Homo sapiens: one gene and its partner. The protein of the gene in region 1 interacts with the protein of each later gene in a biochemical or structural test. Each region holds a gene or a part of one and is shown in the gene's direction. Other genes may lie near its edges. The genes, in order: PHF3 and CLK1.

Region 1 (3,827 bases):
GATAATATTTCAGAATCTACAGATAAGTCAGCAGAAATAGAAACATCAGTAGTAGGGTCCTCTTCCATTTCTGCAGGGTCTTTGACGAGTCTTAGTCTCAGAGGTAAGCCACCAGATGTTTCTACAGAAGCATTTTTAACAAATTTATCAATTCAGTCAAAACAAGAGGAAACTGTGGAGAGTAAAGAGAAAACATTAAAAAGACAGCTTCAGGAAGATCAAGAGAATAATTTGCAAGATAACCAGACTTCAAATAGTTCTCCATGCAGATCTAATGTAGGAAAAGGAAACATAGATGGTAATGTGAGCTGTAGTGAAAACCTTGTTGCTAATACAGCGAGGTCTCCACAGTTTATCAACCTGAAAAGGGATCCTAGGCAAGCAGCAGGACGAAGTCAGCCTGTAACTACTTCAGAAAGCAAAGATGGAGATAGTTGCCGGAATGGAGAAAAACACATGCTGCCTGGCCTGTCACACAACAAGGAGCACTTAACAGAACAAATCAATGTAGAGGAAAAGTTGTGTTCTGCAGAGAAAAACTCGTGTGTTCAGCAGAGTGACAATTTAAAAGTTGCACAAAACTCACCATCAGTAGAAAACATACAGACTTCTCAAGCAGAACAAGCAAAACCCTTACAGGAGGATATTTTAATGCAAAATATTGAAACTGTGCACCCATTTCGAAGAGGATCAGCAGTAGCGACATCTCATTTTGAAGTTGGAAACACATGTCCATCAGAATTTCCTTCTAAAAGCATCACCTTTACTTCCAGAAGCACCAGCCCCAGAACAAGTACAAACTTTTCACCCATGAGGCCACAGCAGCCCAACCTTCAGCATCTCAAGTCTAGCCCACCTGGATTTCCATTTCCAGGGCCTCCTAATTTTCCCCCACAAAGCATGTTTGGATTTCCACCACATTTGCCACCTCCATTACTTCCCCCTCCAGGCTTTGGCTTTGCTCAAAATCCCATGGTTCCCTGGCCACCTGTTGTTCATCTCCCAGGTCAGCCACAGCGTATGATGGGTCCTCTCTCACAAGCATCAAGGTATATAGGCCCGCAGAATTTTTACCAGGTTAAAGACATTCGGAGGCCAGAAAGGCGCCATAGTGACCCTTGGGGTAGGCAAGACCAACAGCAACTGGATAGGCCATTTAATAGGGGTAAAGGGGACCGCCAGAGATTTTATAGTGATTCACACCATTTGAAAAGAGAGCGACATGAAAAGGAATGGGAGCAAGAATCTGAAAGGCATAGACGCAGAGACAGAAGCCAAGACAAGGACAGAGACAGAAAAAGCAGGGAGGAAGGGCACAAAGATAAAGAGAGGGCACGGTTATCACATGGTGATCGAGGAACAGATGGAAAAGCAAGCAGAGATAGTAGGAATGTAGACAAGAAGCCAGATAAACCTAAAAGTGAAGACTATGAGAAGGACAAAGAACGAGAGAAAAGTAAACACAGAGAAGGAGAAAAGGACAGGGATAGGTACCACAAAGATAGGGACCACACTGACAGAACTAAAAGCAAAAGGTAAAATTTGCAGGCTGCTTCAGGATTACATTTAAATAACTGTTAAAATGTTGTATCTTGTAAACAAAAGAAAGATTGCCTGCTAGGATTGTGCCATCTTTAAAATTTTTACTATTGGTCATTTGCAGAACAGTAAATTCTGTGTGTTGGTACAGAGTGCTCTGTACCAGTGCTCATCATCCCTTCTTCATACCAACGGTCCCTAGTTATAGGAATTTAATATTTTTAAAAGTTTTACATTGCTGTATATTCAAAGATTTGTTTTATTAATATGCAATAAAGGCTTAGAAATTTTAGTTTTATTCCTTAATTGGTAAATATGGTTAACTATGGAATATATTTACTTCCTCTAGTGAATGTCCTTTATATAATGACTAATTTGGGAGTAATGTGTGCTCTGTAAGTTTGTTTTAAATTGCACTGTTTTTAAAGAAACTGTAGAGGAGCAACAAAAATCCAAGCAACTTCATAATCAGATTATGCTAATCATTTAGTTGAGCAGTTTTTGACCAAGAATCAGAAGCCCAAGGGGTACATTTATTGCTTTAATCTGCACTCATTGAAGTCATTTATTACCATATACTACAGCTTTGTGGTAGGCCATTATTTTCATTTTCATTTTTGGCTCTTCAGAAACTTGAATACTTAAGCTTGTACATGATCTTGTGTTTTGCTATCCTTTTTACTGTAAAATGTAAATATTTTAAGGGATATTTTGATTCTAAATATGATAAAATAATTTCTCACCTATTTTGTGTGTGTGACTTGAAATTCAGTAGTAAAAGAATTTCTTCTTTAAAGCTTTAATTACCTTCAGACATTGATTTTTTGTTACTCAGCCAAGAACATATAGAAATAGCTATCTATGTCAGGCATTAGATGAGGGGAAAAACAATTTTTTTAAAATCTTAAATTGTAGGCTGAGATGAATTGTGTAGTTCTAAAGAGGCTAGAATTTAGAACTACCTGTGAAACACTGTGCAGCTATAGCCCACTTTATAGGTAAGTTTCTGAAAACTTTTACACCATCGCAATTTGGTACTCTGACTCACTAATCATTAAAATTAAAGACCGCAGAACTTGAAGAGAAATATGTTTTGAATCCTTTTATAAAATGTGCGATTTAGCCTAATTCGTAAAGTAACTGTACAGTTTCATATGCCAGTTTTACTTGAAAAAAAAATATGAAAACTATTGTTAATTCAAATCTAAATTTATTTAAACCCTAAAACACATGGTTTTGATGGCTGTAATTTAAAGTAAGAGCTATCAAATGATGCTGACAAAAGAAAAACCTTCCAAAATACAAAAGAAAGAGAACTCTATTATTTACTTACCTGTATTAATGAAGAAAAATATAAATAATTCCACAAAATTGATTGTTTTCCTAAAGAGCTTAAAGATTAGAGTTAAAAATTGGTTTTGAAACAGAATTATCCTTGTTATTTTTGCTGGAGAGAAGGGAGGAAATTCAGAACCAAACATTCTATTTAATTTGCAATGACTTGCAGTACTTTTTTCCCTATCCTTATCCTGTGAAACTTACTATCATAAGGTTCTAAAACAGAGAACTTGTGTTTAAATAAAGCCCGTTTAACTTTGGTCCACTTTTCTTTTGGAAATTAACTTGTTAGAAAACAAAGTTAGTTCCCAAACAAAACAAAATCTAAGTTATAATTTGCACCATTACAAAGAAATTGCTGTCAGGGTTTTACACATTTTAAAAACATTTCAATTTCAAATGTGTATATCGTCAATAAATCTACCTTTACTGATATATCTGGTTGAGGGAATATCAGACTCCAGATTTCTTTTGCAAGATGAAAGTAAAAACGAGTGGGTTAATGAATGAAAACAAGCTTTTAGGTCAGTTTTTGATCACCTCTTCGCTAATAGTTTTTTCTACATATCTAAAATTCTTTAATCAGTTCTGATCGAATCTTGATACATGTTTTTAAAATAGGCAAGGCCCATATAGCTTTCTATTAGGGATGAGCATCTCCAGGGGTTAGAGGCAGATCTTGTAACCGCTGATTGACTGAAACATTTTATGGAGAATAGGGAAGGTATGGTCATATTAGCTATTTGAGGTTTTCCTTTTGAGGAAAAAAAGGGAAAATGAGCAGATTTTTCAATGAGTAGTAGATCCAAAGCCATTCTCAGTCCCAGGTACAACCAGCCTTACACAAACTAGTGAATTACATGAATTTCATCTTTCAGTTTCTCCTGTTTTAAGAAAAAACCTGCTCTTTAAAAAAAGTTTTACACTTAAAAAAACTTAGAATCATCTTA
Region 2 (3,827 bases), on another chromosome or scaffold:
GAAATACCAAAAAATAACTCATGTGAGTGGTGGTTTGATGAAAGAAATTTGTGTCATTCAGCATGTAATAGAATCAGAACTGAACACTAAACCATAAATTAAAAAAATACAGTGGGTCAGAGTAGTAGTACAGTTTGAAGACAGTAATACCTGGAATTGAGCATCATGTCTGTCATTCTTAAATTTGCATGCATCTTTCTAACAGGGGAGGTAGACATGTAGCAGTAAAAATAGTTAAAAATGTGGATAGATACTGTGAAGCTGCTCGCTCAGAAATACAAGTTCTGGAACATCTGAATACAACAGACCCCAACAGTACTTTGTAAGTATCAGATTAGAACTTGGGAAGTGGTATCAGGTATATTTAAATTAGGAGCAACTATACTTAGCTATTTTTCATGTGTTTGTAGCCGCTGTGTCCAGATGTTGGAATGGTTTGAGCATCATGGTCACATTTGCATTGTTTTTGAACTATTGGGACTTAGTACTTACGACTTCATTAAAGAAAATGGTTTTCTACCATTTCGACTGGATCATATCAGAAAGATGGCATATCAGATATGCAAGTCTGTGAATTGTAAGTTCTTGGTATATCTTCGTTAATTTGCTGGTTTTATCCATTCCACATATCAAAATGTGCATCCTAAGTGTGTACAATTTTTATTTGATTAAAAATAAAGGGGGAGGAAGAATAGGTATGAAGAGATTTGATTACAGGCTGTTGATCCAGCAGTGTACATTTCATTCAGCAAGTAGGATATCCACCATATAACAACGTACTTTGTTGCAGACTATGATTTAGACTTTTCTGATGCGCAAAAATAGTAACTTCGAATGCTGGGTAAAAATTAAGGCGTGATATATCTCATAAAAGAAAGCTTCATAAGAGGTAGTAAGTTTTAGTTACTGGTGATTTTCTAGCAGACTGGAATGTTGACCATTCTTTGGGAAAGGAATCAGAGGTTTTTTGTTGGGTTTTTTTGTTTTTTGAAATGGAGTCTCGCTTTGTTGTTCAGGCTGAAGTGCAGTGGCGCAGTCTTCACTCACTGCAAACTCTGCCTCCCCAGTTCAAGTGATTCTCCTGCCTCAGCCTCCCGAGTAGCTAGGACTACAGGCACACGCCACCACACCCGGCCAATTTTTGTAATTTTGGTAGAGACAGGGTTTCACCATATTGGTCAGGCTGGTCTCGAACTCCTGACCTCAGGTGATTACAGGCGTGAGCCACTGCACCCGGCCTGTTGTGGGGTTTTGTGATTTGGTTTGGTTTGGTGTTTTCTGATTACAGCAACTTTCTCTTTATTCTCAGTTTTGCACAGTAATAAGTTGACTCACACAGACTTAAAGCCTGAAAACATCTTATTTGTGCAGTCTGACTACACAGAGGCGTATAATCCCAAAATAGTAAGTCTTCCAAAATATTCATAAAGTATCTTATGCCTTAATAGCTTATGCCTTCTTAACCATCATTTATGATTTTCAGAAACGTGATGAACGCACCTTAATAAATCCAGATATTAAAGTTGTAGACTTTGGTAGTGCAACATATGATGACGAACATCACAGTACATTGGTATCTACAAGACATTATAGAGCACCTGAAGTTATTTTAGGTGAGTATTAATTGTCCTTTGAGAACCTTTGTATTTCCTTATTGAGACTTAAAATTTTTTTAGCAGTTTTAGGTCTTACTTGTGGGGCTTTATCATATTCTCTTTAAGGGATAAGTATCATGAAGTGCATTATGGATTTTAAGCTCTCAATTGTACCAGATAATTAGCTCTGGGAATTTGAGCAAGTGGCTTAACCTTTCTGGAATTGTTTTCACATTTGTAATATGTGGTAGGGTTTTTAAATGTAATTGTTTAATGCCAGGTGGGGCGCGGTGGCTCACATCTGTAATCTCAGCACTTTGGGAGGCCAAGGGTGGGGCGCGGTGGCTCACATCTGTAATCCCAGCACTTTGGGAGGCCAAGGCGGGCAGACCACATGGTCAGGAAATCGAGACCATCCTGGCTAATATGGTGAAACCCCATCTCTACTAAAAATACAAAAAATTAGCTGGGTGTGGTGGTACACGTCAGTAGTTCCAGCTACTCAGGAGGCTGAGGCAGAATTGCTTGAACACCGGGAGGCGGAGGTTGCAGTGAGCCAAGATTGCGCCACTGCACTCCGGCCTGGGCGACAGAGCGAGACTCCATCTCAGAAAATTGTTTAATGCCTATTTTATTCCAGACTATATATAACACTATATAATTTATTTATTTTTATCATTTATTTATTTTTTAGACGGAGACTTACTCTGTCGCCCAGGCTGGAGTGCAGTGGTGCAATCTTGGCTCACTGCAACTTCTGCCTCCTGGGTTCAAGCAATTCTCCTGCCTCAGCCTCCTGAGTAGCTGGGATTATAGGCACCCACCACCACACCCGGTTAATTTTCTTATTTTTGGTAGAGATGGGGTTTTTACCATGTTGGCAGGCTGGTCTCAAACTGCTGACCTGGAGCAATCTGCCTGCCTTGGCTTTGCAAAGTGCTGGGATTACAGGCATAAGCCACTGCGCCCGGCCATATATATTGTATTTAACCTTGGATTAAGTGATTGCTTTAGGATCTTCCAGCTCAAACATCACATTGCATATATATGTGTATATATATAATTTTTTGGGGGGGGGGCGGAGTCTTGCTCTGTCACCCAGGCTAGAGTGCAGTGGCGCGATCTCGGCTCACCGCAAGCTCCGCCTATGGGGTTCACTCCATTGTCCCACCTCAGCCTCCTGAGTAGCTGGGACTACAGGTGCCTGCCACCATGCCTGGCTAATTTTGTTTTTGTATTTTTAGTAGAGACGGAGTTTCACCGTGTAGTCAGGATGGTCTTGATCTCCTGCCCTCGTGTTCCACCTGCCTCAGCCTCCCAAAGGGCTGGGATTATGCCTGTAGCGTGAGCCACTGTGCCCGGCCAATTCAGATATATATATATCTTAATAGAGGTGGGATCTCGCTGTGTTGCCCAGGCTGGTCTTGAACTCCTGAGCTCAAGCAGTTCTCCCATCTTGGCCTCCCAAAGTGCTGGGATTACAGGTGTGAGCCACTGTGCCCAGCCTACATTACATGTGTTTTTTTTTTTAAAGTATTAGTGTTAACTAACTTTTTAATTTCTTTAACAAACATTGAGTATTTTTTTTCCTTAAATTTTGCTTTGCTTTGCAGCCCTAGGGTGGTCCCAACCATGTGATGTCTGGAGCATAGGATGCATTCTTATTGAATACTATCTTGGGTTTACCGTATTTCCAGTAAGTGACAATGATCTATTTCAACCTTGCTTTGCACAAGAAAGGTGCCTGTTTATATGAATAAATACTTTTGCTTCCCCCATTATAGACTATTAATTGTAGATAAGCATAAATAAACTAATTCATATTTCTTTCATAATTGTTTTATTTAAAACATCTTTCAGTATATAAGCAATTATCCGTGTCCATGTAGGGAATCATTGGCGAGTTTGTTCTGCAAGCCTTAATGTTAGTTTTTTTGCTGTCAGCTTTAACTGTGTCTGTTTTGGTGGTCATCTTCCCCAAGTCTGTTTTTATTTTATTTCTAGACACACGATAGTAAGGAGCATTTAGCAATGATGGAAAGGATTCTTGGACCTCTACCAAAACATATGATACAGAAAACCAGGTACGTTTTAAGAGTTAGTGACATCCTTAGTATCATTTGATCACATCTGCTGATTAGAACTTAATTTTTTTTTTTTTTTTGAGATGGAGTCTTGCTCTGTTGCCCAGGCTGGAGTGCAGTGGCGTGACCTCGGCTCAATGCAAGCTCT

The links.
Region 2: of the proteins of PHF3 (region 1) and CLK1, one has a biochemical effect on the other in vitro, tested with the Homo sapiens proteins (one large-scale study listed by BioGRID).

The regions. Positions count from the first base shown.
Region 1 is NC_000006.12:63,712,170-63,715,996, forward strand, and holds part of PHF3 (PHD finger protein 3), read left to right. Parts: coding exon 1-1,539; 3' UTR 1,540-3,827.
Region 2 is NC_000002.12:200,854,468-200,858,294, reverse strand, and holds part of CLK1 (dual specificity protein kinase CLK1), read left to right. Parts: intron 1-205; coding exon 206-322; intron 323-410; coding exon 411-577; intron 578-1,309; coding exon 1,310-1,404; intron 1,405-1,483; coding exon 1,484-1,613; intron 1,614-3,208; coding exon 3,209-3,291; intron 3,292-3,599; coding exon 3,600-3,679; intron 3,680-3,827. UniProt on the Homo sapiens protein: Dual specificity kinase acting on both serine/threonine and tyrosine-containing substrates.